Homo sapiens: one gene and its partners. The protein of the gene in region 2 interacts with the protein of the main gene of each other region in a biochemical or structural test. Each region holds a gene or a part of one and is shown on either strand. Other genes may lie near its edges.

Evidence for each region.
Region 1: the proteins of ETS2 (region 2) and ZMYND11 form a complex in vitro, tested with the Homo sapiens proteins (2 studies listed by BioGRID).
Region 3: the proteins of ETS2 (region 2) and POU5F1 form a complex in vitro, tested with the Homo sapiens proteins (one study listed by BioGRID).
Region 4: the proteins of ETS2 (region 2) and CDK10 form a complex in vitro, tested with the Homo sapiens proteins (one study listed by BioGRID).

What each region holds. Positions count from the first base shown.
Region 1 is NC_000010.11:131,037-138,473, reverse strand, and holds the start of ZMYND11 (zinc finger MYND domain-containing protein 11), read right to left. Parts: upstream 3,020-7,437; 5' UTR 2,915-3,019; intron 2,877-2,914; exon of another isoform or gene 2,802-2,876; intron 2,666-2,801; exon of another isoform or gene 2,057-2,665; intron 1-2,056. UniProt on the Homo sapiens protein: Chromatin reader that specifically recognizes and binds histone H3.3 trimethylated at 'Lys-36' (H3.3K36me3) and regulates RNA polymerase II elongation. Does not bind other histone H3 subtypes (H3.1 or H3.2).
Region 2 is NC_000021.9:38,801,414-38,808,928, forward strand, and holds the start of ETS2 (protein C-ets-2), read left to right. Parts: upstream 1-4,515; 5' UTR 4,516-4,557; coding exon of another isoform or gene 4,558-4,707; exon of another isoform or gene 4,708-5,395; intron 5,396-6,023; exon of another isoform or gene 6,024-7,515. UniProt on the Homo sapiens protein: Transcription factor activating transcription. Binds specifically the DNA GGAA/T core motif (Ets-binding site or EBS) in gene promoters and stimulates transcription.
Region 3 is NC_000006.12:31,167,664-31,174,750, forward strand, and holds the start of POU5F1 (POU domain, class 5, transcription factor 1), read right to left. Parts: upstream 3,020-7,087; 5' UTR 2,958-3,019; coding exon 2,553-2,957; intron 1-2,552. UniProt on the Homo sapiens protein: Transcription factor that binds to the octamer motif (5'-ATTTGCAT-3'). Forms a trimeric complex with SOX2 or SOX15 on DNA and controls the expression of a number of genes involved in embryonic development such as YES1, FGF4, UTF1 and ZFP206.
Region 4 is NC_000016.10:89,682,089-89,689,697, reverse strand, and holds the start of CDK10 (cyclin-dependent kinase 10), read right to left. Parts: upstream 3,010-7,609; 5' UTR 2,988-3,009; coding exon 2,901-2,987; exon of another isoform or gene 2,364-2,900; intron 2,209-2,363; exon of another isoform or gene 2,150-2,208; intron 2,063-2,149; exon of another isoform or gene 1,883-2,062; intron 447-1,882; coding exon 374-446; intron 1-373. UniProt on the Homo sapiens protein: Cyclin-dependent kinase that phosphorylates the transcription factor ETS2 (in vitro) and positively controls its proteasomal degradation (in cells).

The DNA of each region.
Region 1 (7,437 bases), on a different chromosome or scaffold from region 2:
AAATAAACATATGTCATTCATTGAAACATGCATGACATCCATTCAAAACGCCAACAGGGCCGGGTGCGGTGGCTCACATCTGTAATCTCAGCACTTTGGGAGGCCAAGGCAGGTGGATCATTTGAGGCCAGGAGTCTGAGACCTGGCCAACATGGCAAACCACCCCCACCCCGGCCCCCTACTAAAAATACAAAAAATTATCCAGGTGTGGTGGCACATGCCTGTAGTACGAGCTACCCGGGAGGCTGAGGCATGAGAATCGCTTAAGCCTGGGAGGCAGGGGTTGCAGTAAGCCGAGATCACACCACTGCACTCCAGCCTGAGCGACAGAGCAAGACTCCATCTCAAAAAAAAAAAAAAAAACGCCAACAGAATGGTATTCAGTATGAATGAAAGAACTAAATTTTAACATTTTAATTGATTTCTTTTTGTGAAGCTGGAAGCTCGTACATGTACATTTATTTAAACACCTCACAAATGGTAATTGCAAAAATAAATTGTCCAATTTAGAGACTGTAAAAGGAAGAGTTGGTTTTCATATGAGCAATCTCTATGGGGGAAAAGCACCATGTGAAATACAGAAATCCTTTAAGTAACAGAGTCAAGCAAGACAAATATTTTGATTCTGTCATAATCACATCCCATATCCTCTGATCTCTGATTCTCTAGCCTGGTCATCTTATAAAGATGAGTCAACCAAAAATAACAACTATAATGTAACCTGTGCCAGTTAGTCAAAGACAAGGCAAATTAAATGCCTCTACAGACATTCATATTTTTTCTCCTGCTTGTAAAAAGACATTCAGAAAAACTACAAAGATGACCCTGCCTACCAGAAAGCACTCTAACTTTTCAACTTTCAAAGTACAACCAACACTATCTCCCTGATAACATCCAACCATTAATTAAAATCAACCTCAAAAATCTGAAAACGTTGTGCACACCATAATTACTAAGCTAAAATTACTATATTTCTCAGTTTACAGGAAAACAAGTAAACATTTACTTTCTGCTTTTGGACAAACAGATTAAATTATTTTTAAGAATGTTCTTGCCTCCATATGACTCAGCTTACTGTGGGATGCAGAACACCTAAGTGAGGAGGACCAAGGGCTCTAGACCTCCCTAAAAACCCAACCTGCACCACTCCCTCCTACCAGCAGGGTCCTGAATGGGCCACCTGGGTATCTCCTCCAGGCTCACATTCTTGACACCAGATACCATGTACACACTGTATATGACCCAGGGTACTAGATACCCTGAATATGACAGTGGGTACTGTGTACACAGTACATATGACACTCGGTACTAGGTACACACTGCATCTGACACTGAGTACAGCTTATGTGACAAGGATAGTGCATGCATGGTGCATATGACATTGGGTACCATATATGCATGGCATATGACATTGGGTACTACCTACACACCATATATAACACTATGTAATGTATACATACTGTACATGCCACCAGATATATATACAAAACATAGATAACACCAGGTAGTGTATATACACTGTATATGACACCAGATACTATATACCTAACGTATATGACATTGAATACTGCATACACACCGCATATGGCAGCACGGTACCGTGCACATACTGCACAAAATACCGGGAACCGCGTAAGGGCTGTATATGACACTGGGTGCTGCATACACAGTGTGAAAGGATACTATGTACACACCATATATGACCCCAAGTACTGTGTGCACACAGTATATGACACCTGGTACTATACACACCGCATATATGACACCAGGTACTACATACACACTGTATGTGACAACAGGTAAGGTAAATATATTCAATACTATCCAGATACTACATACACTCGTATATAACATGGAGTACCACACGCACAGCTCATATGGCAGCAGGGTACCAGGCACCTACTGCACACAATACCGGGGGCTGAGTGCACAGCCTAAGCGAGGAAGATACATGTACACACCGTGTATGATAGCCGGTACGACACCGGGTACTTCGAGCACACTGCATATGACACAGAGTACACACCATATATAATCCCCGGTACTGCGTACCCACCGCATAGGACACCGCACTGCACAACGAGCACTGGTACACACGAATAAAACAGGTACGGCGGTCACTCTGCAAAAGACACCGGGCACGGCGCACACATCGCCAGCTCCTCCTCCTCCCGGCTCGGGAGAAAAGCGCGAGGAGAGACTGCAAGTGAAAGTCCGGGTCCCGGCGCCCCCCCTCGTCCCAGCCGCGTCCTCAGCAGCTTCTCCCCGGAGCTCTGGGTGGGAGGAGGGCGGCGGACCCCACAGGACTGTCCCGGAGGTCCGCGAGGACCTGTTGAGGCGGCGGCCTCGCTGCCGGGGTCGCTCACAGCCCCGGGGGACCGACGAATCTCCGCCCCGGGCCTCGGGGCCAGCCCTGCCCGCCGCTCCCGGGCTAGCACACGACGTGCCGCGCCGACAAACGCTTCCTCTCCGCCCGCCACACGCCCGGAGCCGCGTTCCCCGCCGGCCCGGACTGCGCACGGGCCCAGGAGGCCTGACCGAAAGCGGGGCACAGGGCCCGGCGGGCGGTGCTCACGCGACTCCGCGGCTTCCCGGCCCGAGCAGGCCCCGCGCGGTCCTCCGGGGCCTCATCCCGGGGCCTCTTCCGCGGCCGCCCAAGGCGAGTGGGCGCGGGCCGGCAGCCTCCGCAGGCCCCGCCGCCGCCCTCGCAGGCCCCGCCGGCCCGGCCCGCCCCGCCATCCACAAAGCTCCCCGGCAGCTCGGAGCTCTTCGCGAGCGGGCGAGCGACCGTCAGCACCCACTGGTGCCGCCGCCGCCCCAGAGGCCGCGGCCAGGCAGGCTCCACCGCGCGGGCCGCGCCATCTCCACGGACGCCCCCGCCCGCCCCGCCGCCCCGCCGCCGAGCTTTCCCCACCATTATGCTCCGGCTCCTCCACCGCCGCCGCCGCCGCGCCCGGCCCTCCCCTCCGGTGCCGCCTCCTTCCCGCCGCCCGGCGCCTCTCGGGCCTGAGCCGGCGACGGGCGCGGGGGGCGGGGGGGACGCTCAGGCCGCCTCCTCCTCCTCCCTGCCGGCCTCCTCCCTCCTCCCCGGCTCCCCCCCGCCCGGACCCCGCCGCCGGCTCCGCGCGAAGGGCTCCGGGCTCGAGGGGCGCCATGTTTGTAATACTCCACCTCAGAGAACGCCGCGGTCGCGCCTGAGCGAGGGAGGCTAGGCGGCCGGGTCGCCGCGTGCGGGGTGAGGGCCGGGAGGGCACCGCCGCCCGCACTTACTCGCGTCTTCCCCTGGCGCCGCGGGCCTGCGGGGCCGGAGCGGGCGGCGGGAAGTTGGGCGCCGCCGCCCGGGAAAGTTGGGTCCCCGCGAAGCCGCGGCAGCCGCTCACATGGCGATGCGCGCGGGGCGGCCGCTCGGCCCCACCGGCCCCTCGGCCCGCCCGCCCTCGGAGTTTATTGTGTCGGGTCGAGGCGCCCCGCGGCCGGGCCGCGCACTGGGGGCTCTAGCGGCTGGCGCCGGACTTGCGCGCGGCCGGCCCGGCTCGCGGCCGCCTCCCGCCCGGGGCCGGAGCCGTGCACGCGGCTCCTACCTTCCCCACGTCCTGTCTTCGGCGCCTCTATCCGAAATTTGTTGGAGCATATTCCTCTGTCTCCACACATGCACTCCGTATCCACACACACGTGAAGGCTACGTACGTGCAGGCGCGCTGGAGCCGGGAGCGGGCGCCGAGGCCGGGGCGCGAGGGGGCATTGTCAGGCGCCGCCGCAGCTCAGCCCCGGGTGGACCCGGTGCCTGCCCCTGGCTCGCGGGGTCCGGAACAGCGAAGTCTGAGAAGTACGAGTGCTTCTCTTAACAACATTGTTTAGGTAGTCTGAACAGCCCTTTACTCCTGTCATCAAAAAGAGCGGTAGGGATACGCTAAGTTCCCCGTTTCATCTCTGCGCAAACAGGACCGCGAAAAGAACAGGACCACCCATCAGCAGCCCTGCAAGAACACTGCAGATTTGCGCGAGAAGTAGGTTATCTTCTATGGAGAGGAATTCTAGACCTAATCAGAGACGATCCCTTAAGACTCTGGTTTAAGAAAGGTTCGGAGATAAGCATACTTTGATAGCGTTCACCTGTTTTCCCTGAGGACCTTTCGCCACTGGGAGTCGGGGAACACCTGTCAGTCAGAGTCCTCTGCTCTGAAATTCGGTGAGTACAGGACAGCAAGGTGTTTTCAGGGAGACCGCATTCTCATAACTTTTACTACAGTATAGTGTTATAATTGTTCTGGTTTATTATTAGTGTTGTTAATCTCTCATTGTGCCTGACTTCTAAATTAAACTTTATTATAGGCAGGTGTGTATAGGAGAAAACGTAGTGTAAGTAAGGTTCAGCACTACCCCGGGTTTCAGGTATCTATTGGCCGTCTTGGCACGTGTCCCCACCTGAAAAGTCATTAGGAAGAGACGGTTGTAGGAATTTGGGGATTCTGATAAAATATATCAATCTGCTTCTACAGCTGGTTTCTAAGACTGTTAGAATTTAGAAATGGGTGGTACTTGAATAGGTCTGTGATATACACTAGTCAAATAAACACAATCTTTCATGCTATTCACAGCCCTCAATCTGATACATCCCAGAGAGTTTTTGATTATCTCAAAGAACATCACAGAATAATTGTAATTCATTTTAAGAGTAAATATATATCGCTAAAAATTTAGTAGAGGGGTTAAAACGTGTCAGAAGAAAAGCAAGCCATGCCTGGTTTGAATGTTGGGCCAGGAATTCCAACAATGAAGAGCTTTCAGTGAGTCACCTTTTTAAACAGTCTGTTACTTCATCTGTAAAATAGAGGACTGCATGGTTCTGTGTATTTTAGAGAAGGCACTCGAGTAAGACAACATCGTATCAATAAAAGGAAGCTTACCTTTTAGGAAAGAAGTGGCAGCATAACTCCACATTTTTTTCCCAGTTATACTTTGTAGGGATCATTTAAAATTTTATACGCAGATACCATCTCTCATTCAACCTAATGTAAGTTAGATAACTTACCCTGATTTTCCTGTTGGTTTTGCCTAGAATTTAACCCTTGGCTCTATTTTCCAAGTAAGGTGGTATTTATCCACTAAGATGAATACGAATATCCCTCCCCACATAAAACGCAAAAGCCATGGATAATGTACAATAGAAGAAATAAAACTATTAATAAATACTGACAGCTATTCTAATTCACTAGTAATGACACATTCAAACAACGTAACATTGCTTTTCTTCAAAGGACAGAATTCTTTTCCAGTGATAATGCTACTGATGGTTAGCGAAATGAACGCTTATATACACTGCTGGCAGAAAATTGGGTTGATGTCAACTCTCTTGAAATGCATACCAAGAGGCCATTAAAACAGTTTGATTTATCTCATTTGCCCCTCAGCTGAATGAATGTGTGTGTGTGGGTCTGGGGACCAAAGGTTTGAGGTTTGGAGGAAGCCCAGAAGACCAGTAACTAATTGCTGTGCTAGTATCTTACATGACAAAGCTATACTGTTTATACAATTGAATACAGACAGATTTTTACTTCTTGATTCTCCTTTTTGCATTGGTGAGTTTCAAAGCGGGTGCCACTGAGCCCTGGGGCTTCTCAGAGCTGTCGGGGAGCTGTCTCTGCAGGACCAAGACGTGGGAATACTCCTCCCGCCCCCAATCAGACAGCACTGCTCTATTTTCTAGAATGAGTGTCCAGATCAGATTTCATTACCTGGCTATTGGGACAGTATAGTGTGTGTAAGGTAATAATTGCTCAAACTCATTTGACATGAGTTAGGGTTTAGTCTCATTATTTATTTTGTTAAATATTATCAGGAAATACTGTGGAAGAAAATGTTAACTGTAACTGTAATAAAGTGTGGACTGCTGCAGATGGCTGTGAGTGTAAACGTCACAGCACCTTCATTGGCCCATGGCCTCCAGAGCCGCTTCCTGCTGCGGGGCAGCCCTCAAAAATGTGTGTCTAGTGAGTGTCATCTCTTACACATGCTACAGCCCCCCATCCTCAGACCCCCAAGAAAGCAAGAGGATAAGAAACATTCAGTAAGAGACAGATGCTGAAGTGAGCAGTCATGATCTAGCCACTCCACAAGGTTAGTTCGTACTGCAAAGGGAGACTTTCTCAGAGACCAATAAAATATATATATATAAAATATATATATTATATTACATATTTTTTTTGAGCAGCAGCAAGATTTATTGTGAAGAGCGAAAGAACAAAGCTTCCACAGCGTGGAAGGGGACCCGAACGGGTTGCCCCAATGAAATATTTTCTAAGACTATACAATGTTCTTTGATTTCATTCCATGCCTTTCTGACTTCTGATAACAGTTTTCCGTAGTCTTTAGTATTAGATATTGATGTTTTGAATATGGTTGTGGTTTCTCCTTATCTTCTCCTCTATTAGATTAACATTCTGGCATATAAGTTACTATATAACAAGTTTATTAATGTTGCTTAAGGATTTCCAGTCACCTGTGGATGCTTTTAAAAATCATGTTTTTGAAACTAGAAAGCTGTGGTCCGAACTCTGTAACAGCAGTTACCATTCATTGATGCTGCCACCCTCTGTGGCTCAGACTGAAACTGCTACTATCCATATTTTAATTTTAAAAAACTTTCAGCCAGGAATAGTGGCTCACATCTATAACCCCAACACTTTGGGAGGCCAAGGCGGGAGGTACACTTGGGGCCAGGAGTTCGAGAACAGCCTGGGCAACATAACGAGGACGCATCTCTACAAAATTAAAAAAAAAAAATAGCCAGATGTGGTGGCTCACTCCTGTAGTCGCAGCTACTCGAGAAGCTGAGGGAGGAGGATGGCTTGAGCACAAGAGGTCAGGGCTGCAGTGAGCTATGATTGCATCCCTGCACTCCAGCCTGGACAACAGAGCAAGACGTTCTCCAGGAGAAACTGTCAGTATAAGAAATCCATTTCCATTGAAAGCCATGATTCTTCCAATACTTAAGTGGCAGCTTTTTACTACACAGCAACCGAGGAGCTGAGCTGACAGTGCTTGCCAGGCCTAGTTCCAGTGCCTGTGGGCCTTGAAACCCAGGCTCCGGGCATCTCTTCAGGGCTCCATAGCTGTGGCTTCTGAAATTCAGTTCCCCACTTCTGTCCATGAATGTACAGTATTTGTTAGAAGTAGGTCCTCCCATACTCAGGTTAATATGCTTCAAAACATTTAAGGAAAAGTAGGATCCTGTCTTTTCAAGGGCAACTCATCACACAAGATGAAAAACAGATGTTTGTGTATGTGTGTGCCTTCTTTCCTTCAAAATTGTGATTCTAACCTTTTCCCTGTCTCCCTGGTCCCTGTTTTCCTTTTTTTGAGATAGGGCTCACTCTGTCACCCAGGCTGGAGTGCAGTGGCACCATCTTGGCTCACTGTAACATCCACTCCTGGGCT
Region 2 (7,515 bases):
GTTCAGTTTTCTAGTTAGCAAAATACATAAGCCGATGCACTGAGGATTATTCAGTTCCATGCATACTGTTGGAATCATTTTGTGATTCAGACAAAAACACACAACTATAAAATCATATATCTGTACACGTCTGACTCAGTTCAGACACATTTATTTAGGGATTATCAGTTTTACAGAATACAACGGGTCGCTATTACTATTTTGGTTGTTCAGACTTGCCTAAAGCACGTCACTGTGCAGTTTGATATCATGGTGGATTTTCAAGCGGTTTATACCCTCCCAGAGTACTGCCTTATAAGGGAAAATGACTGTGTCAGGGTGGCAGTGTGCTGGACGAGGGGGCAGGAGGCCTGGAGTGTGGCCCCAGCTTTGCCAGGAAATAGGCATTTGACCCTGGGCAAGGAATTGATCCTCCCTGGGTCTCAGTTTCTGCATCTTACAAACCAGAGTTGGTCTGAGCCATCAGCTCTCTGAAGTTTTTTCCAGTTTTAAAATCCAATGTTTCATTTTCTCGTTTCTGACCACCAAAGGCAAGAAAAACATAGTCAAAGACACCATGGTTCCCATTGACAGCACTGGGATTGATTTTATACCTTGTTGTCAACCAAAAGTGCCAGTGCAGGGCAGCAGTGATCAGCGATGCCCGCAGGAGACCAAGACTTCCAGGGCCAGGGGACCTGCTACTTATTTATCACACACTTAATGACACGCCAGACACTGTTCTAAGTGCTTGGGAGACATTAACAGAGGGAGGCCCCGAGGGGCCCACAGGTGGCCTGCTAGGGAATGGCTGGGCGGGATTTGACCCCAGGCAGTCTGGGCCCACAGGCTGCCCTTCAGAGGTGAAGACGGTAGCCCTAGCTGGGTAACCATGTCTTCATGCCCACAGGGAGTGCAAGGGACAAAGGAGGCTGACAAGGAGCAGAAGGAATTAGAAAGGAGCATTAGCAACGTTTTTGACCACCAGCAGAATACCCTATCTGCCATTCCAAGGAATCTCACAGAAAAGACTAGACACTGGCCAACTCTTGCATAATCTGGGTCCACCCTGATGGAGCAGGAGGCAGCTCCACGGCCCCACATCTGCCTAGGATTCTTGGTAGCTGGGCCAGCCTGCAAATGGGCAAGGTTGGTTGGATTCGGAGGTGGGCGGAAGTGTGGGTTAAGCTTATCAAGTCCTTGACCCCAACATATATCAGTGAAATAGCCACCACTGCCAGACACCCCAGCAGGCCAGATGCAGGCGGCAGCTTACACATGAGGAAATGATTTCTATCTCTAGGTTCATTCTTTTCTTCCTCCACTCCTTACCAAAGTCTCACTGTGCATGTGATTTTAACTGAACTGTGCACTTCACTTTTACTTCTTGAGGGCGGGAACTAACTAAGCCTTAATCATATTTGTCTTCTCAGCATCTGACTCTGTGTTTGCTAAGTGAATGAATGATGCACTTCGGACCAAATGACGTCTGTTTAACTTGCAACTGGAAACCACCACAAACTGCCTGTTGACTACTGATTTGGATTTTAAGGTAAATACAGACATGTTTCTAAGGAGACGTTTTTGTGTGTGTTTTTTTTCAAAGGATGACTTCGTAAGCTAGCTAATCATTTCTCATAATTATGTCTGGATTCTAAAGAATTCTTTTTCTGCATTTTACTCTCTAGATATTTCATGTTCGTAACACATATATTCTACTGTAATATCCCTTTTCCTCCTCTCTTCTGTGAATGTCCCTCTTTCTTAAGGGGAAAGTGTTAACATTGCTCATAACTCAGTCTGCCATAGCGCATCTGATCACTCCACCCTGTGCACCTTCTGACTTTTAATTTCCTTCCAACACCCTCGACTTTTGATCTCCAAGCACAAGGGCTATACTTTTATTTATTAGGTTTAATTTACTGTAAAGCTCATTGTTCCCTGTGAATCGCACGATAACAGTCAATGAATAATCACTGGCTTCAGCCAGACTGCTTTTTAATTCTGCTGAGTAACTGGCAAGCCAACTAGTATTAAGGACAAAAATGTAAGGAACCCTGATATTGCCCCAGAACTAGGATAAGCCATTTTATTATGAACATGTGACTGCCCTCGTGCAGAGGTGGATCAGCTACAGGGCAGGACCCAGGGCAAGGGGGCTGCTTGGGGCAGCCTCAGACTCTTTGGAAGGGGAAATAGGGAGGACCAGGGACCTGGGTGGGAGGCAGGAGCTTAGGCTTACGATGACCCCAGCACACAGGCCCAGCTTCCTCTTCCCACAGCCTCCCTGCCGTCTTAGCTCTGCCATTTGGTCTTCCGGCCGGGATCCCTTTCCCAAGGCTTTCACACATTTAAACCCGCGAGGGGCAGGACTTTTTTTTTTTTTTTCGTGTATATGATAGTTTTTTCAAAATGTTTTCTATAAAATCCTCCCTGAGGAGAGCTTGGAAAAAGATTCTTAATAGCTAGATCATTTTGAGTCCTTCTCTACCATGTACTCAACACTCTAACATATTCTGCACATTTGGTTCTATGTCATTTGCCATAGTCTTAAGGACGTAGGTTCCATAATCATCCCTTATTCTGTAGAGGAGGCCCAAGGTTAGTGAGCAGAGGAAGGTTCCACTGTCGGGAACCGGTGGTCTTCAAACTCCTGTGCTCCTCTTTTGATATCTTTCTGCTCATATATGTTGGAAACAGCCCAGCATGAGCAAAGCACCACCTCCTAGCCCCCAGCCTGTGCCAGCCCTGCAAAGAGGAAATATGGCTCCACTCAGGGAGCCCATCAGCGACTCAGGGAGCCCTGGAGCACCTGGCACTCAGCACCCATGAACACGAGGGCAGGCATGGTGGGACAAGGCAGTCTGCTTGGGGCAAGTGAGCTTCGGGAAGTAGCTGAGCTTTGGGGAGCAGCTGTCTATACCCAGCTTCTCAGGGCTGTGCAAGTAGCCTGAGGGAGAAAGACCCTATATTAGCTGAAACTGCAGCCCAGATGAGTCAGTATTTTCTGCTACGGTTTTTTAAAAAAATAGTAACATACTCATGTCTCCATGGTAACTTACTATGGATCTGTATTCCATTTATGGAACTCTTTCTTGACCTATCTGTGTTCTCTAATCTGGGCCTGAATATACACTGAGAAGCCATCAGAATCAATTCAGTCTCCAAGAAATAATCACTTCCCCTATACGTGATTGTTTCAGCCGTATAGATTCTGACTGTGACTCATGCCACGGTGATACCCGGAGACCTTCGGGGACCCAGAAACATTAAGGTGCACCGATATCTCAATTATCCGGATAACTCTAGACCTAGAGTCACCATGGAAACCTAGAACCCTGAGTCACAGAGAAGCTGGGCCATTCCTCTCCCTTCCCGGTGGTGCCGCAGTTCTTGAGATGTGAGCAGCTTTCAGCCCCGTGGCCTCGCCTAAGCTGGGGTTTCCTATTTCATCCACAACTTCAGGAATCTAAACTTTCCTGCAAAATATTGAGCATGTGACCTGAGTCCAAACAGCCATGGACTCAAGCACCTTCTGATAAAAACGGAAACCACAGTGTAGGGGGTGGTTTTGACCAGGGTTTCGGAGTCAGATAAACTCAGGTTTCCACCTTGAATTTCTCATCAATCTGACGTGGCAGGTTATTCATCCTAAGGTTCAGTTCCCACCTGTGTAAAGTGGGAGCCGCAAGTCCTCCGAGAGTGACGATGATGTGCGTGGAGTGCCCAGCCCAGATTGAAGCGCGGCCAAGGCGGGTCGCTATCTGGGCACCGCTCAGCTCCAGAGGGCGCCACTCCCGCGGAGCCTGCGGGATCGGGGCTTCCCGGGAGCAGCGCGATCAGCACCACGACTCGGGGACACAGCCAGGGCCCGGTTTCTACAGGAAGCGCCTCATTTGGAGCCTTTTTGTGATAGAATGATCATTAGTCCTAAGCCCATTCAGAGGTTCAAGAATGGGGTCGGCTCAATTTCAGGGCCTTATTACCCAAGCCCGGCTGCCCTTCGGTGCCACCAGCACCACTGCTCCGTCGCTGCGGAATTCCAAAGGCAGGTTTGGCGTTAGGGCCTTGGCCCCAGAGAGGACGCCGAGCGCTCCACGGAAAGTCTCCGCCCGGCTCCCAGGGCGCACACTCGCGCGCACGTGGGGCCGAGGCCCTGCTCCCGGGGCCTCAGGGCCAGCCGGCGAGGGACCCAGCCGAGTGACAGCAGGAGGCGGAGGGAAGGTTGGGCCGGAAGGTGTCAGCCCCGCCCCGCGCTCCCTCGCCGCCTCCGCCCTCCTCTTCTCTCCCCTCGTGCGTTCCCTCTCCTCTCCCTCCGCTCCCCCAACCCTCCTGCTGCCCCCTTCCCTCTCCTCCCGCTTCTCCCCATCCTGCCTACCTCCCTTCCCCTCCTCTTCTCTCTCCTCCCCTTCCCTCCCCTCTCTCTTCTCTCCTCCCTCGTTTCCTCCCCTCCCCTCCACTCGGCCGTCCCTCCTTCCTCCTCCCTCCTCCCTCCTCCTCCCGCTCCTGAAGAGCGCGCCGCGTGGGGGACGGCCCGGTTACTTCCTCCAGAGACTGACGAGTGCGGTGTCGCTCCAGCTCAGAGCTCCCGGAGCCGCCCGGCCAGCGTCCGGCCTCCCTGATCGTCTCTGGCCGGCGCCCTCGCCCTCGCCCGGCGCGCACCGAGCAGCCGCGGGCGCCGAGCAGCCACCGTCCCGACCAAGCGCCGGCCCTGCCCGCAGCGGCAGGGTAAGAGCTGGGCCCGCAGAGAGCGCCCGGCGCGCGGCTCCAGTCCCATGGAGGGTCACCCGGGGCCTGGGCGGGGGTCGCGGGGGGCACTGACACGCAGATCTCGGGGCGCTGCCGGGGGTGCAGGTGGGGGTGGCGGCTGCTGCGAGGACTCTAGGGGCGCGCGTCTGAGTTCCGCGCCGGCTCGTTTTCCGGTTATGGAGTGGCCTCCGGGGCTGGCGGGGTCGGCCGGGGGGTTCCTGCGTGCTAGGGCCGCTGTCTTCGGGGTCGCCTAGCGGCGGGCGCGGCCAGGGCGCGCTGGCTTGTTTCGCTCGCTTTTGTTTTTAAAAGGAAACGCAGGCCTGGTAGGGGGTCCTGCCCAGTGGATGTCCCGGCGAACATGATTTCGCGAACGGGAGTGGGGGCACAGGAGAGCGTGTCCGAGGTGGCCTGGCGCCCCGGCTTTGAGGGTGACTTCCTGGAGCGGCGCCGGGCCCGGAGGATCTGGGGCGCCCAAGACACCTGAAGGCTGCGGCACCGCGGGAACCTGCGGGGCGCGGGGTGCCATGGTCACCTGCTCGCCGCGTCCAGGGCCCGGGCTGGGGACCCCTCGGTCGTGCGAGGAGAGCGTGGGGAACCTGTCGGAAATGAGATCTGGTTGCGCTGGGCTGCCTTTATTTTCTCGTTCCTACAGCATTTGAATGAAGAGGTAACTGAGTGTTTGCTTGTGTGTGTTTGGGTTGCGTGTGTGTTATCCTATTTTATTTTTTACGGCAGGAGACCTTTTATGTTAGCCTGTACACAATTTCAGGGTAGCCTAAAACAGTAGTTGACGCGCTAGTTATTTAGAAAGTAAAGAAATGAGCAGTCCCCTTTGGAGACAGGAGTAATTTATTTTAATTCGCCAGTAAGAGATTATATTTGTTCCATACAATGGAAGCGCCTGTGCGTTATCTGCCTGCCCACACCACCACCAATCAGAGAGATAAATCTCCACGTTAAGCTTTATTAAAATTCTGAGTAGTAGCGCAGCACAGTAAATGTTAGCACCGACCATCCGCAGGGAAATGCTCAGATACTCATTTCTGGGATTAGTCATTCATCTCTCTAAACTGATCGCTTTCAAAGCGAAAAAAGCAAACTACCTTCAAATGTGTGTTACAAGGTTGTGTTGTTTCTTTTTTTTGTTTGTTTTCAAATTTATCTAAATAATCTTACATAAGTGATTACTTGTTCCAATAAGGGTACTGTTGTCAGGCAAATTCTCCTTGTTTTTAAATGTAACCATTCTCAGCTGTTACATTTCTGCTCTTTATCCTTTTTTTTTTTTTTTTTTGGTTTAAAAGCAGCGATCCATCAGCAACACCAAACTTGAAATTGATTTATGTGGAAAAACTTGGCTTGTCTGCCATCTAACAAGCCCTGTTGAGTAAAATAAGCAAGCTTAAATTTGATTAGTTGTGTGTCTGCCTGAAACCATTTAGTAGAGCACTTTAATTCTGCATGGTTTTTACAAAACTCATTAAAAGCTGGACAACAAAAGAATTCTATTCTGTAGCTAGTAATTACAGCTCTTTATGTGGGAGTGGTAGGCTGCCTTTTCTCCTGGTATTTGTACACAAAAGCTGGGGAGAGCTTTTCCACTGCCTTCCACATTCATTCTCTGTCCATCTCAGAGAAGCTGAAAAACAGAATCAAGTCAGCAAGCAGTCTGCAAGCCTAAGGAAGAAAAAGAGCTGACCCATCCGGCTCTGGATGGATAACTGGCAACACCCAAGATGTCTATGATTTTGGCCTTCTGTTTGAGGCTTGTTTATTTCTTTAATCAGCAGCTACCAGGACTTATTTCATGCAGAGAAATGACATAAAGCTCTAGAGGAAGGAGCATTTCACATTGGAAGGAGTAGTGAGAAGGGCCTGATCTGATAATATCAGGATGGGTGGGAAGGGTCCATTCCTCATCATTCATGTTCTCCCGGCACAGAGGACTGTGTGGAGGACTCAGGATTTAGGACCATACTCAACTGGGGTTTGATCTCCACTTTGCCCTGCGGTGGCCCCTCTGGTAGCTATGTGGATCCTGGGCAGATTGTCCATGTTGCTGGGCCTCCGTTGCTTCACTGTATGACGTCTGCCTCTCAGGGATGCAGGAAGATTCAATTAGGTAGGAGTGGATGGTCCCCCAGCACGGGGCTTAGCTCTTAGTAACTAGGCATTCTGGCAATGGCAGCCATCAATAGGAGAGACTATTGATTGTTGAGTGAATATAAGTGGCATAATCCACCAAGTGGAGATTCTGAGTGAATGTGGCCACTTTGGACCCAAGACTGCTGCCCCTCTCTGTCCTCTCATAGGACTATTATTTATTGCCAGTGCTGACCAGCCTTTGTTGGCTACCATGATCATTACCTGCACTCCGAGTGTTTTAACAGAATTTTCTGATGCCTCTGGCCTCACCTGCTGCCTTTTAGCCAAGAGGGGTGTGTGTGTATGTGTGTGTGTGTGTGTGTGTGTGTGTTGGGTGTGTGTTGGGTAGCAGGGTTCTTGGAAGGTCTGGTTTAGCCATAATGTTGATCATAAAGAGAAAACAAGAAAATAAATGCAAATTAAATAGTTCGGTGAGCCTTTGTTATTTCGCCACATCCAGTAAGTTCTATCAGTTGAATGTTGTCTGAATTACTTAAAAAGTTCTCAGTTGTAAACAGGTAAGAGCACCCAGTGGAGGCCATGGAGCTAGGCTTAGAGCTTTGCCACCAGCCTTCAGTTCCATAGCCATGAACCTGGGAGGGCAAGGAATCACCCTAGAGGTGAAGGCCATTCATCGGTGCT
Region 3 (7,087 bases), on a different chromosome or scaffold from region 2:
CACCACTGCACTCCAGCCTGAGGGACAGAGTGAGACTCCATCTCAAAAATTAAAAAAAAAATAAAGCAGTCTATAGGAGTAGGGTAAAGGAGGGAAGGAGATTATGGAGGAGGGTGACACTTTTAAAGACAGAGAAGGTGATTGTTTGAGCAAAGGACAAGAGTCTAATGTGGCAAGGCCCTGAAGTGGGCCTTCCAGAGCCCAAAGCTGGTCTGGTGGCTAGGTAGATCCTGTTGCAGACATAGTGACTTTGTTTTAGTCCAAGCGAAATGATCTCTCACCCTTTTTCTCCCCACCAAGACGGAATCTCGTTCTATCGCCCAGGCTGGAGTGCTGTGGCGTGATCTTGGCTCACTGCAATCTCCGCCTTCTGGGTTCAAGCTATTCTGCCTCAGCCGCCTGAGTAGCTGGGACTACAGGCACCCACCACCATGCCCGGCTAATTTTTGTATTTTTAGTAGATATGGGGTTTCACCATGTTGGCCAGGCTGGTCAGGAGACCTCAAGTGATCTGTCCACCTTGGCCTCCCAAAGTGCTGGGATTACAGGTGTGAACCACCGCACCTAGCCTCACCTTTTTTTTTTTTTTTTTTGAGAGTTTCGCTTTTGTTGCCTAGGCTGGAGTGCACTGGCGCGATCTCGGCTCACCGCAACCTCCATCTCCCAGGTTCAAGCGATTCTCCTGCCTCAGCTTCCTGAGTAGCTGAGATTACAGGCATGCGTCACCACGCCCAGCTAATTTTGTATTTTTAGTAGAGATGGGGTTTCGCCATGTTGGTCAGGCTGGACTCGAACTCCCGACCTCAGGTGATTCGCCTGCCTCGGCCTCCCAAAGTGCCTGGCCACACCTTTTAAAACACTGACTCTAGTTGACGTGTTGGCCACAGACAGTAGGGAGGAAGCAGTATAATTTGAGAAGCTACTGCGGTAATCCCAGCAGAGATGATGGTGGCTGAGGCCAGGGTTAGGTTGTGATTGATTCAGGATGTTTCTTAAGGATAGGATGTAGGACATGAAAGAAACTGAGGATGACTGGGTTTGGCCTTGAGCAACTGGGTGATCAGGGTGGAGCAGTTCAGGGAGCCATCACAAGAGACAGAAAACGCGGTAGTCATCTGGTGTCTAAATGGCATTTAAGCCTTGAGGGTGGGTGAGAGGAAGGAAGGGTAGATAGAGCAGAGGTTGAAGGACTGAGCCCTGGGGCATGCCATATGAGGCTGCCGGCAGACAGAGGTGCACAGCTAGTGAGAAAAAAACAAGGCCTTTTTGTAGTTCTGAAGCCTCAAGGAAGTGTTTCAATGGTGCTTGATCATATCAATTTCAAATAGGCTGTTTTCATCCCCAACTTCTGCTCAGCCAATAACTCAAACTGATAAATGCCCTCTGCTATCTTGGATTTTCCAAATTCTGTTTTGGGGTTTTGGAATAAACACTGGTCCAAATCCTCGCTTCATCATTTAGCAGTTAAAACCCGTTAAATAGGATAATAATACCTCCCCCTAGGAGATTTTGTGCTGGTTAATGAGATAATGATGTATAAACGGAGCACACAGCCAGGCACTTAGGAAGTGGACCACAATTGCCAGCCATTATCATTCAAGGCTCAGCAGTGACCTCCTGCGAAGAGGTTGGGGCTTCTCGGTCACTCCAGAAACCAGTCACACCTTTCTGTGAGGTCTCAAGGCTTAGTATTTAATCTCTAATTGCTTACACTTGTCGCCTTGAAGGACTGGAAGATACATCTTTAATAGTCCTCAGCAGGGCTGGATGCCTTCAATCCCGCAGCAGCTCTATATTTGCAAATGGCCTGGAGAAATCTCTCACCATTTTTCTTGTTTACAACTTTGGAACTGAGGCTGAAGTCAATCAAAATCCAGCTTTCTACAAGGGGTGCCAGGGTGTGCACCTTAACACAGTGGCCAGTCATTGGCCTGAGGCAGAGATCCGGGGAAGACAAGCCCTATACTTGACTGGAGGTAAACCCAGCTCACAACGCGCACACACACAGCCCAAACAGGAGATCCTATCAGAAACGAGTCACACCCTAGACTTTCAGGAACAATAATCCTGGAATGAGCACTGTTTTTACCCTCAGGCTATGCTTAACCCTAAGGCCAAAATCTTGGGTCTGATAAGGGTCAAATTTTCAAGCAGGACTAAGGGTGGGAAAAGGGGCTCAAACCAACCCCAAGCTGGGTCTGGTGCTGGGCCAGTAATGAGTGACCAGACCCTGGGCAGGCCTAGGAGATGTGAGAGACCCTGACAAGGGCTGGGCCAGAGCAAAGGCCAGCCTGGGCCAGCTTCCGACTCTCCCAGGCTGCTCTGCCCTCACCGGCAGTTGTCTCTTCGAAATCCAGCTTCCACTTCCCACCTGGCCCCTGCCTGCCAGGGCTGCCAGCAGTTGATACACACCCCTCCCTGGCCAGGGCAGCTGACCCTGCCTGCTCCTCTCCTGGGTGCCAGGTCTGGGCAGCTGCAGGTGACCACTTCCCCATCAGGCTGCCCTGTCATGACCACCTCCCCACACCCCAACCCCGTCGAAGCTCACTTGCCTCCTCCGGGTTTTGCTCCAGCTTCTCCTTCTCCAGCTTCACGGCACCAGGGGTGACGGTGCAGGGCTCCGGGGAGGCCCCATCGGAGTTGCTCTCCACCCCGACTCCTGCTTCGCCCTCAGGCTGAGAGGTCTCCAAGCCGCCTTGGGGCACTAGCCCCACTCCAACCTGGGGCCCACAGTACGCCATCCCCCCACAGAACTCATACGGCGGGGGGCATGGGGGAATCCCCCACACCTCAGAGCCTGGCCCAACCCCCGGCCCGATTCCTGGCCCTCCAGGAGGGCCTTGGAAGCTTAGCCAGGTCCGAGGATCAACCCAGCCCGGCTCCGGCCCCCCTGGCCCATCACCTCCACCACCTGGAGGGGGCGAGAAGGCGAAATCCGAAGCCAGGTGTCCCGCCATGGGGAAGGAAGGCGCCCCAAGCCGGGGGCCTGGTGAAATGAGGGCTTGCGAAGGGACTACTCAACCCCTCTCTCCCTCCCCAGTCCCACCCACTAGCCTTGACCTCTGGCCCCGCCCCCTGGATGGGTGGAGGAGAGGGAGGTGGGGGGAGAAACTGAGGCGAAGGATGTTTGCCTAATGGTGGTGGCAATGGTGTCTGTGGAAGGGGAAAACCGGGAGACACAACTGGCGCCCCTCCAGGACCTCAGTGCAGGTCCCCCACAGAAACTTTTTTTATTTTTATTTTTTAAGACAGGGTCTCACTTTGTTGCCCAGACTGGAGTGCAGTGGAGTACAATGATGGCTCAATGTAGCCTCGATCTACTGGGCCAAAGCAATCCTTCTGCTCCAGCCTCCTAAGTGGCTGGGACTACAGGCTTGGACCACTGTGCCCTGTTAGTTTTTTTATTTTTAGTAGAGATGGGGCCTTGCTATGTTACCCAGGCTGGTCTTGAATTCCTGTCCTCAAGAAATCCTCCCGCCTCTGCCGCCCAGTGTCATGATTAAAGGCGTGAGCCACCACACCCAACTTTCAACTCCCAACCCGCTCCCTGGCACTCTCTCAGGCTCTGCACATCCCAGCTGTCTGGAATCACTCCCACACCTCCATGTTCTTCAGGAACCCAGGTGCTTGACCCCCTCTCCACAGACCTCTGGCACTGTGCCTTCAGGGGCCAGTCACCCTCTCAGCTCCTCAAATTTATTGAATGTGTGTGTGGCGCTATCCCTCAATGCATCAACAGCCATAAGCACAATGGCCAGCTGCTCCCTTATGCCTTCCCCCGATCCATCCAGAATCCTAGGCATTCCCATCCCGATACTGGCCAAATCCAGCCACCCCGCAGCCTGGGTGCCTGGCACCATCTGCCCAGCCTGCCAAATTTCACCCCATCTTCAAGAGTAGACTGCCAGACAAGGCCTCCGTGCTATATCCCCCCACCCCCCCATCCCCCCACCCCTCCGTCTTCCAGAATCAGACTCCAGACTCTCCTCATCTAACAGACTAAGGGGTTGGTCCCTACTTCCCCTTCAAGGGACCAGACTTTGGACTGACTGGGCCTCAGTTTCCCAACCTTTGCTGAAACAGAGTGATAAGACACCCGCTTTGGGCCCCCTCCACTATGGAACCTGCACATCAGGTTCCTTGCTCCCCTCTCAACCAAAACTCAGACATCTAATACCACGGTAGGCCCCGTTCTCCCTCCCCCACCTCCCTGGCCCAGGCCTCCAGCCCTAGGCCCTGGGTGGGGAAAACCAGGGGGTGGGGGGTGTGGAGAAAAAATATCTGACTTCAGGTTCAAAGAAGCCTGGGAGGGACTGGGGGAAGGGGGCAGGACAATGGCCTTGGCTGGACAATCCCGGTCCCCAGAGGGGGCAGCTCTAACCCTAAACAAGTGCTCAACCCTTGAATGGGCCTGGATGGCTCCCCTGGGGACTGCTTCCTGCTCCCCAACCCCCCAGTCCCAATCCCCTCACACAGAATCCCCTTCAGAGACGCTAAAAGGAGCTCCAGCAACCCCCCTCTGCAATCCCCTCAAAGACTGAGCCTCAGACGGGCACCAAGGGCCCCCCACAGGGACCTAGGTATCTAGTTCCTCCTTCCTCTGGGGGACTCAGGCGTCCAGCTTCATCGTGCGTCCCTCCCCGAGCCTGGCAGATTGAGGGATGTGCTTTGTTTAGTGGGGCTGGCTGGCAGAAAGACGCAGAGGAGGTGGAGAGTGATTTGTGGAGGCGTGCAGGAAGGCTGCCCTAAGCTCCCCTTCAGGGTCTGTTTTTCTGGGCCTGGCCTGAGTATCCTGAGGCTCATGCTGCTGGTCTAGTGCTTGATTCTGTTTGCAAGAGAATAGCCAACGGAATGCCTGTCTGTGAGGGATGATGTTTGTCTGTCTGCTCCCAAAACTTGATCTCAGTGGAGGGCCTGGGGTAAGTCTGGGGGCTCCAGAGGGGGCTCTGGGCCAGGGCTCCCCACAGCTTCGAAGGCCAGAAGGCCAGGTCTGGACTGGGCACGCTGACCTCTGTCGACTTAAGTAAGGCTTCTCATTGCAGGCTCCAGGCTCAGCCCTGCCTGGGCTTGTCTGCTGGGGTCAGTGGCTCTATCTGCCTTCTAAGGGGATGGGTGTCCCGTGGCCAGCTGTCTTCATCTTGGTGGCATCCGTGAGTCTTTTGAGACTTTTCCCCCACTCTTATGTTGCCTCTGTTCGTGTGCCCATCTCCTGTCTGTGTAGACTTTTTGAGCCTAATTGTATGCGTGCATTTCAATACCTGCCACAGGTCTGCCGGAAGGTCTACAAGGCAGTGGGGTTGCAGCTGTGTTCACTTCTCGGCCTTTAACTGCCCAAAAGGCAGGTAGATTATGGGGCCTGGTGGGGGTGGGAGGAACATGCTTCGGAACAGGAGGAGGCCCCTCCCCAGCCATCTCAATCCCCAGGACAGAACCATCACGGCACCTTTGTCATGCATCTCTCTGCTGTCTGCCAAGAAGACGGCCTCTCAGAGGAGGGGGAGGGGCAGGCCTGGGATTTGGCTGGAATCTCCACACCAGTGTTTCTCAGCTTGCCATCCTCCAGGTTCCCCAAAAGCGCTCTTCCCAAGCCAGTCCAGAGAGTCCCTGCTGCCCATTTTCCTAGTGGCTCCTAAAACACCTTCCCCAATTTCCCCACTCAACACCACCCTCTTGTTTTTAGATTATAATTTGTACTGTAGGTGGTGTATTTCTGGCCTGGGCAAGAGGCCCATTCCCGAGAGGGACGCAGACAAGGGGTGGGTGCCTGGATCCCTGGCTGCCTTGTGGCTGGATATGAGCCCAGTCAGGGGTCAGCCTCCTGCATGCCTAGACTCCTAGCCGGCCCCCTTCTGGGGTGCTCAGGGCTGATGGGAGGTTGAGGCAGGCTTTCCTTCCTTCTCACTGTCCTGTTATGCCTGAAGGGTAGGTGGCTTCACTTCAGCCAAGGCCAGCTCTCCCAGGCCCCAACCAGTGCTGGGGGCCACCGTTGGGCCTGGAGGAGACTGGAAGCCAGGCTGAGTCATCAGAACTGGTCCCATGATTCCCTGGGTTTTAGAAAGTCACCATAAAAAGATACTTCACACACACCTTTATTATTACAGTGCAATGTCAAGACCCTTCACAGAGCACTGCCAGGGGACCCAGGTGAGGCCCACCTCTCCCCACCAGGTGAGGCGGCTGGCATGGCTGGGTGGGGAGAGGTGAGATGAGCAGCCTTGCTGCTCTCAGCCCAGCCTTCCCTTCCCCTCACTGGGAGATGAGGTGCTGTTTGGTTGAAAAACCAGCTGAAAAAACTCAGTTGGGACCAATAGAGACTTGCTCTCGACCCGGTCTAGGAAACCACTTATTTTGACTTCCGAGGCCTGTCAATCTGAAGGCAAAAGAAAGGGAAGAAACGGAGGGCTGAGGGTTCAGGCTTGGCCCACCTTGGGAGATGATCTCCCTTAATAGCAATTTAGACAAATTCCTTTGCTCACTGTGGACCAAGTCCCCTCTTCTCAACAAAGGACCCTCTGATCTCCCCCATGAGCCCTGCAAACTGAGGTCACCTTATCCCAAATCCAGACACTCTTACCTCAAATAGAGGAGTCAACTCTCTAGCTGTAGCCTGTAGGGAGTCAGAGGTGAGAGCAAAAGGAGTGGGTGAGCTGGGAGGATTGGTCAGGAACAAACTAGGAGGCATGGACCAGGTTCTAAGTCCTGGCTCTGACTCCCTGGCTAATGGCACCTCCCCCTCCTGTGCCTCAGTTTCCTCACCTAGTAAAGAGGATTTGGACTCAATGAACTCTAAACTTCCTTCCAACTCAGACATAAAATTGCTGCCCCGCTCTCATATGCCCTCCCATCTACCCACCCCCCTTACTTGACATGGGAATGTAGACTTCTCTGCACACCTGTGAAGAGAAATGGGGGTAGGAAAGCTGGGAGTGGTGTTCAATGAGAAGTTGGCATAGGCCTCCCTGTACCCTGCCACCTACCTCCAAGCATCCTTCCTGGGGAATCTGGCAGGTTTTCCCCTGAAGTTTGATCAAGAGATATAGGAGGAGGCCGGGAGCGGTGGCTCATGCCTATAATCCCAGCACTTTAG
Region 4 (7,609 bases), on a different chromosome or scaffold from region 2:
CAAACAAAAAGAAAAAACACCTGGGCTCAGGTGACTCCTCCAGAGTTGCTGAGGTGATAGACATGAGCACCATGTCCAGCTCCTGCTGCTTCTGGAAAGTTCTGTATTTTATTTCTCTAACAGTTCTGTGTACTCTGCAGTGACACGTTTGGATTATGGGCATTAGCAACCGGATGCTTACGTTTACCCAGAAATGGTACAATGTTTGTGATAACTACATCAGGAATTGAAGTTCCTGAACAGGTTTCTGCCCTGTTTCAGAGCACAGGGTCTGAGTCCCTTCCAGCCCCAACGCGGCTGCTGCTTCGACAGTCTCGTCCCACACTGTCACAGCCACGAGCTGCGGCCACATGTCCTAGCCTTGGCCACTCACACACAATGCCGTAGGTACCCTCTCCAATGCGGTTCAGCTTCTCAAACTCCTTCACACTCCGGCATCGTCCCAGCTGAAACAGAAGGGTGTTGCCAGTGTGGAAATTTGGCAGCTGATGGAACAACTGAGGAAATTTCAAATGGAATTTGTACCAGGGAGCCCACTCACGTCTTGCTCACCAAACAGAAAGGCAACCACACGTTTGGGCTTTTTTTTTCTTTTTTTGAGACTGAGTCTCGCTCTGTTGCCCAGGCTGGAGTGCAGTGGCAAGAACATGGTTCACTGCAACCTCCGCCTCCTGGGTTCAAGTGATTCTCCGGCCTCAGCCTCCTGAGTAGCTGGGATTACAGGCAGGTGCCACCACAACCGCCTAATTTTCTATTTTTAGTAGAGACTGGGTTTCACCATGTTGGCCAGGCTGGTCTTGAGCTCCTGACCTCAAGTGATCTGCCCGCCTTGGCCTCCCAAAGTGCTGGGATTACAAGCGTGAGCCACCGTACCCGGCCTCTTGGGCTTTTCTGATGAGAAAAGGTGGTGACGATACTGGGCCAATGCTTTGAAAGAAATATCAGAGGCGGCCACTCAGATACTCCCTTTCAATCCCACATACAAAAATACATCTGTGGCAGAGGCTGCTGTCCCAGCATCCCTGTATCACTACCTCCTGGAAGTTATGAAACGCTACCCAGTGGCATCTGGCCTTGGAATGTGAGCTGAAGGGACCGTGTGACTTCCAGGTGAAAGGAAGCTTTCACCTCTTCTCACCTCAGTGACGGGAAGAAAAAATGGAACCAGAATGCCTGACCCACCTGTGCAAAACAACTGCTTCTCTCCAGAATGTTAGGGGAGAGTGAAAAAAGGCATCATCTTGAGGCCCTGTATTTTGGGGTCTCTGAACTAGTAGAGTCTGTATCCTTCTCCATGGATCTAAGAAGCACATGTAAGCCGGGCGCAGTGGCTCACGCCTGTAATCCCAGCACTTTAGGAGGCTGAGGTGGGTGGATCACGAAGTCAGGAGATCTAGAGCACCCTGACTAACACGGTGAAACTCCGTCTCTACTAAAAATATGAAAAAATTAGCTGGGCGTGGTGGCGGGCGCCTGTAGTCCCAGCTGCTTGGGAGGCTGAGGCAGGAGGATGGCGTGAACCCAGGAGGTGGAGCTTGCAGTGAGCCGAGACTGCGCCACTGCACTCCAGCCTGGGTGACAGAATGAGACTCCGTCTCAAAAAAAAAAAAAAAAAAAAAAGCACACGTAGCAAGGTTTGAAACCTCACAGCCCCCATTTCCCGGCTTCCCTTCTCTTAACCCTCAGTATCAAACCTGGGCTCAAGCAATCCTCCCACCTCAGCCTCCCAGATTGCTGAGATTACAGGTGTGAGCCACTGGCCGCATTTGTCCTCAGTCTGATTCCTTCCTGACACCTGGGGACCGAGTCAGAAGCATCTGGCCTGTCACTCACTGATGGCCTAGTCTCAAACTCCCTTTCCCGCCTTAATTCCCCTTCTCACATCCTCTGCTTGTGCTCTTCTCGACACGCTTATTTCTGGGTGTCCAAATCCTTGTCACACTTCCTGAACTCAAAGAAATGCCAGGCCAGGCTGGGGGCGGTGGCTCACGCCTGTAATTCCAGCACTTGGGAGGCCGAGGCAGGAAGATCACTTGAGCCCAGGAGGCTGACGATGCACTGAGCCGTGATCACGCCACTGCATTCCAGCCTGGGCGAGAGCGCTAGACCCTGTCTCAAAAAAACAACAAAAAAGAAAAGGCCAACTCACTACTTCACCCCAGAGTCCAGCACACGGCTCTCAACGCGGTGAGCGCCTGCTGCACGTCTGGATGAGTAAAGTGTGGCTCCTGTTGTCATCCAGCCACGATCTGTTAATGATTCTTACTGAACACGTGGCTTGGCCTCTCAGAGCACCAGCCAGCAGTTAAAAACACAAACCAGCGGCCAAAGTTCAGGGCTCTCCACCCCCACCAGCCGTGCACCTGGGCAACACCGCCCAACGCCCAGAGGCTCTCTCCTGGTCTCTGCAGAGGGAGGCACCGGCACCTCCGCAAGGGACGCGCCCAGGGTTCGCGTGAAGCCGCCAGGCAGCGCTGGACCCCGCTCCATGCAGCCCAAGCCCAGCGGGAGCCTTCAAGCTCGAACTCGTCGCGGGTGTAAATTCTCCCCACAAACAAGTGGCTCGCGGCTCAGCCTGCAAAGCCCAGCTCGGGCGCTGAACCCAGCAGCGCCCGAGCTGGATCCCGGAGCTTGCTCTTCCCAAGTCCCGGGCCCGTCTCTCCGCGGGCGCGAGGCATCCCTGAGCCCGCCCCGGCCCCTCAGATCTCCAGGGACCGGCTGTCGGGGGTCCTGAGCCCGCCCCGCCCCGGCTTCCGCCCCCGCCGCGGGGAACTCTGGGACTGTCGTTCCCGCCCGTGCCGGAAGCCTCGGCGCGGCAGCGCGACACGAGGCTCCCCAGACCCAGCCGGGCAGTGCCGCTAGCGAGGCGGGCAGAGCTGCCCGGGTGGCACCCCGCGCACCCTGTGTTCCGGAGGCACCGTGAAGAAGCCCTCCTTACGAATACACTTCAGACGGATCTGCTCGCACTCCAGATCTGGCTCCGCCATGCCGAGCGCTGGCCCCGCCTCTCTTGCGCGCAGGCGCAGACGCGGACGGCCCCGCGGCGCAGGCGCGAAAGCTCCTTCCCGGGCTTCCTCTCCTTAGCAACGGTTACCAAGAGACGCTCCCGCGGGTCCGCCCTAGGCGCTGGGCTCCAGGGATCGGCTCCGACTGCTGCAGTTCGGGCCTTATTTTAGGGTGAAGCCCGGGCAGCCGACCCGGCTGCGCCGTAGTGGGAGGCCACGGCGATTACCCAGGTGAAGGTCTTCCAGGTGAGACGGGTTCCCCCAGGTAAGAAGGTCCTCCAGGTGGGAGTCCTTCATGTGGGGAGGTCCTCCAGGTGGGGGGGGAGGGTCCTCTCGGTGGGGGGTCCTCCAGGTAAGAGGATCCTCTAGGTGGGGGGGGGGGGTTCCCCAGGTGAAGGGCCCTCCAGGTAAGAGGATCCTCTAGGTGGGGGGGGGGTTCCCCAGGTGAGGGGACCTCCAGGTAAGAGGATCCTCTAGGTGGGGGAGTCCCCCAGGTGAAGGGCCCTCCAGGTAAGAGGGTCCTCCAGGTGAGAGGGTCCTCCAGCGGAGGGGGTCCCCCAGGTAAGAGGGTCCTCCAGTTGGGAGTCCTTCAGGTGGGGTGGTCCTCCAGGTGAGAGAGTCTTCCAGGTGAGAGGGTCCTCCAGGTGAGAGGTGAAGGTGAAGGTCCTCCAGGTGAGGGTCAGGTCACTTGGTCCAGGGATGTGGCTTCAGCAAGCATTTGGGTGCCTCCTCTGTGTTCAGGACATGGGGACTCCAGGAGACTGAAGGAAGCAAGTGGCAATGTCCATGCTGTCAAGTTCTGTCACAGAAATAAGCAGGAGTGAGTGAAAGACAGGAGAGAAGCTCTGTGAGGGGTGGCATTCAAGCTTAGCTTCTGGGCAGGAAGAGGCAGCTATGTCAGCATTCCCTAACAAGGTTTGGCAAAGTAGATACCTCCCCTCACTCATGGAAGACCTGACTTCCCAGGCTGGTAGAAGCTTCTCTCACAGGCACCTGCCTCTCCAATCTCTTTCACAGCCCAGCCCTGGAAGGTGGAAAAAGAAAAGTTGACATGGAATGTTTAGGAAGCACCATTGGTCCAGGTCCAGGATCGGGGCAGCCAGCATGTCCTCTAATCTGGCTTCACTGTTGAAATCCAGTCGAGCAAGCAGGGCCCAAACCACTGCGAGACCAGCTCGGTCGGGCCCAAACCACCGCCCACTGCGAGACCAGCTCGGTCGGGCCCAAACCACCGCCCACTGCGGGACCAGCTCGGTCGGGCCCAAACCACCGCCCACTGCGGGACCAGCTCGGTCGGGCCCAAACCACTGCCCACTGCGGGACCAGCTCGGTCGTGGAGACCCTAACCCAGCGGCGCTAGAGGAATTAAAGAAACACACACAGAAATATAGGGTGTGGAGTGGGAAATCAGGGGTCTCACAGCCTTCGAAGCTGAAAGCCTCGAACAGAGATTTACCCACATATTTATTGACAGCAAGCCAGTGATAAGCATTGTTTCTATAGATTATAGATTAAAAGCACTTCTTACGGGAAATAAAGGGATGGGTCTGGCTAGTTATCTGCAGCAGGAGCACGTCCTTAAGGCACAGATCGCTCATGCTATTGTTTGTGGTTCAGGAACTCCTTTAAGCGGTTTTCCGCCCTGGGTGGGCCAGGTGTTCCTTGCCCTCATTCCAGTGTGGGAGTCATGGCCATCATGAGCATGTCACAGTGCAGCAGAGATTTTGTTTATGGCCAGTTTTGCGGCCAGTTGATGGCCAGATTTGGGGGCCTCTTCCCAACAGCCCACAGCCAGACCTAGACTCCATTCAGATTGGTTTTGATCAGCATGTAGAAAATGGGGGAGTTGAGTGTGGTATACAAAATGGGGGTGTTGGCCAGGCGTGGTGGCTCATGCCTGTAATCCCAGCACTTTGGGAGTCTGAGGCGGGTCGATCACGAGGTCAGGAGATAGAGACCATCCTGGCTAACACAGTGAAACCCCATCTCCACTAAAAAATACAAAAAATTAGGCAGGCATGGTGGCGGGTGCCTGTAGTTGCAGCTACTCGGGAGGCTGAGGCAGGAGAATGGTGTGAACCCACGGGGCGGAGCTTGCAGTGAGCCAAGATCACACCACTACACTCCAGCCTGGGTGACAGAGTGAGACTCTGTCTCAAAAAAAAAAACAAAAAAAAAAGAAAATGCAGGTGTTGTGACCAGGCACAGTGGCTCATGCCTATAATCCCAACACTTTGGGAGGCCGAGGTAGGCAGATCACTTGAGGTCAGGAGTTCGAGACCAGCCTGGCCAACATGGTGAAACCCCGTCTCTACTAAAACTAACAAAATTAGCTGGGTGTGGTGGTGGTTGCCTGTAGTCCCAGGTACTCGGGAGGCTGAGGCAGGAGAATCGCTTGAACCCGGAAGGCGGAGGTTGCAGTGAGCCAAAATCGTGCCACTGCACTCCAGCCTGGGTAACAGAGTGAGACTTTGTGAAAGGAAGGAAGGAAGGGAGGGAGGGAGGAAAATAGAGGGAAGAAGAAAGAAAGAAAACAAAGAGCACGTGGAGAGAACAATCCTAGAAAACTGACGTAGGCTGTGTTCCTCTGAAGTCCATACACAGCAGGCAGGCGTGAAAGTGGTTTATGTATATAAATAGGTACCATTATTCTCTTCTGAGGTTTAAGTTGTCTAGCTTTCGTTCGCAGAGCTTTAAGAAAAGCACGGCTTTGGCCCGGCGCAGTGGCTCATGCCTATAATCCCAGCACTTTGGGAGGCCGAGGCCGGTGGATCATGAGGTCAGGAGTTCGAGACTAGCCTGGCCAACATGGTGAAACGCATCTCTACTAAAAATACAAAAAAATGAGCTGGCCATAGTGGTGCACACCAATAATCCCAGCTACTCGGGAGGCTGAGGCACGAGAATCACTTGAACCCAGGAGGCAGAGGTTGCAGTGAACTGATACCACACCACTGCCCGGGTGACAGAGTGAGACCCTGTCTGAAAAAACAAATAAACAAACAAAAAAAGAGAAAATAATAAAAGTTGAAAAACCTTAGGCAAGGCTAGAATCTAATAACAGGTATACTATAGTTTATTTTGAAACATAATTTTTCTCTCTCTAGTCTCCTATTTTTACCAAAGTGAAATCAGGTAGTACTGATTTGTTTTCAAAATAAGTTTTAGTCTTATTGTACTTGGCCTGGTTATTTGTATAAACTGTAGCAAGAATAAATATTTACCATGTAGGCTTTTTTTTTTTTTTTTTTTTTTGAGACGGAGTCTTGCTCTGTCGCCCAGGCTGGAGTGCAGTGGTGCGACCTCGGCTCACTGCAAGCTCCGCCTCCCAGGTTCACGCCATTCTCCTGCCTTAACCTCCCAAGTAGCTGGGACTACAGACGCCCGCCACCACGCCCGGCTAATTTTTTGTGTATTTTTAGTAGAGACGGGGTTTCACTGTGTTGACAAGGATGGTTGCAATCTCCTGACTTCGTGATCTGCCCGCCTTGGCCTCCCAAAGTGCTGGGATTACAGGCGTGAGCCACCGAGCCCGGCCACAAAAATTGTATCATTGAGAAAATTATGCCAATTGGGGAAGATCTGATGTAGCCAAACCCCCTTTGACCTTTAGCCTTCAAGCTGCCTTCAGTTATTCTTGGGCTAGCTTTGGGAGATGTTTATAGTTTACATGATAATAGCCCCTCCCCAAAACTCAACTGTATTTGTAAAACTAATGAGGGGCCACCAGGCTAGGGAGAGGAGAGGAGCCTGAATTTGGCTAAGATGTAGACATAAACAATTATCAGCCATTATTCCAGAGGTCCTGCAGATAACAATGCTATTGTAACCTAAGATTGGCCTTTTGCAGTACCTCGCAAGGGTTTTTTGCATGTCTGATACCTACGGCTCCAACAGGACCCACTGACTGATGATGGCTCCACCTGGACCTGCCAACTACTCCTGCAGCCCCACCCAGAAGCGGTTCAGCACACGGGAGGATCCTGTCTCACACCCTACGATGGCCCCCCGCCCCCACAACCCATCAGCAGCAAGCACCCACTGCCAAGCTACCCCACCCCTTCCCCCAAACTACCTTTGGAACACCCTAGTCCCCAAATTCTTGGGGAGACTGATTTCAGTAATCATCAAATTCTGGTCTCCCATTCACTTGTCTCTGTGTGAATTAAACCCTTTCTCTATTGCAGTTTCCCTACCTTGATACATGGGCTCCATCTGGGCAAGAAGAATCCACTGGGTGGATACAGTATGAAGCCAGTTTTCCCAAGGGCTTTGATGGGCACTATAGGTCAACTCTGATTCCTTAAAGCCGTCTGTTTATATTTGAAAGCATGCCATTCCAGTCAAAGCCTTGGTAAAATATGCAGTGTCTCTATGTCCTATTACAAGAGAAAACAGATTGTTACTGCACGTGCACACATCATTATATTGACATTAGAATACAAATAGGGGAAGGGAGAGGGAAAAGTTTTTTTTTTTTTTTTAAATAGTGCTCACAGATAGTTCCCAATTTTTGGAGAAATCAGAAAGAAATATGCTACCCAAGCAAAATATAAAAAACAAAAAAGAAAACAGAAATATGTTCCAAATCTTCCTCACAGGAG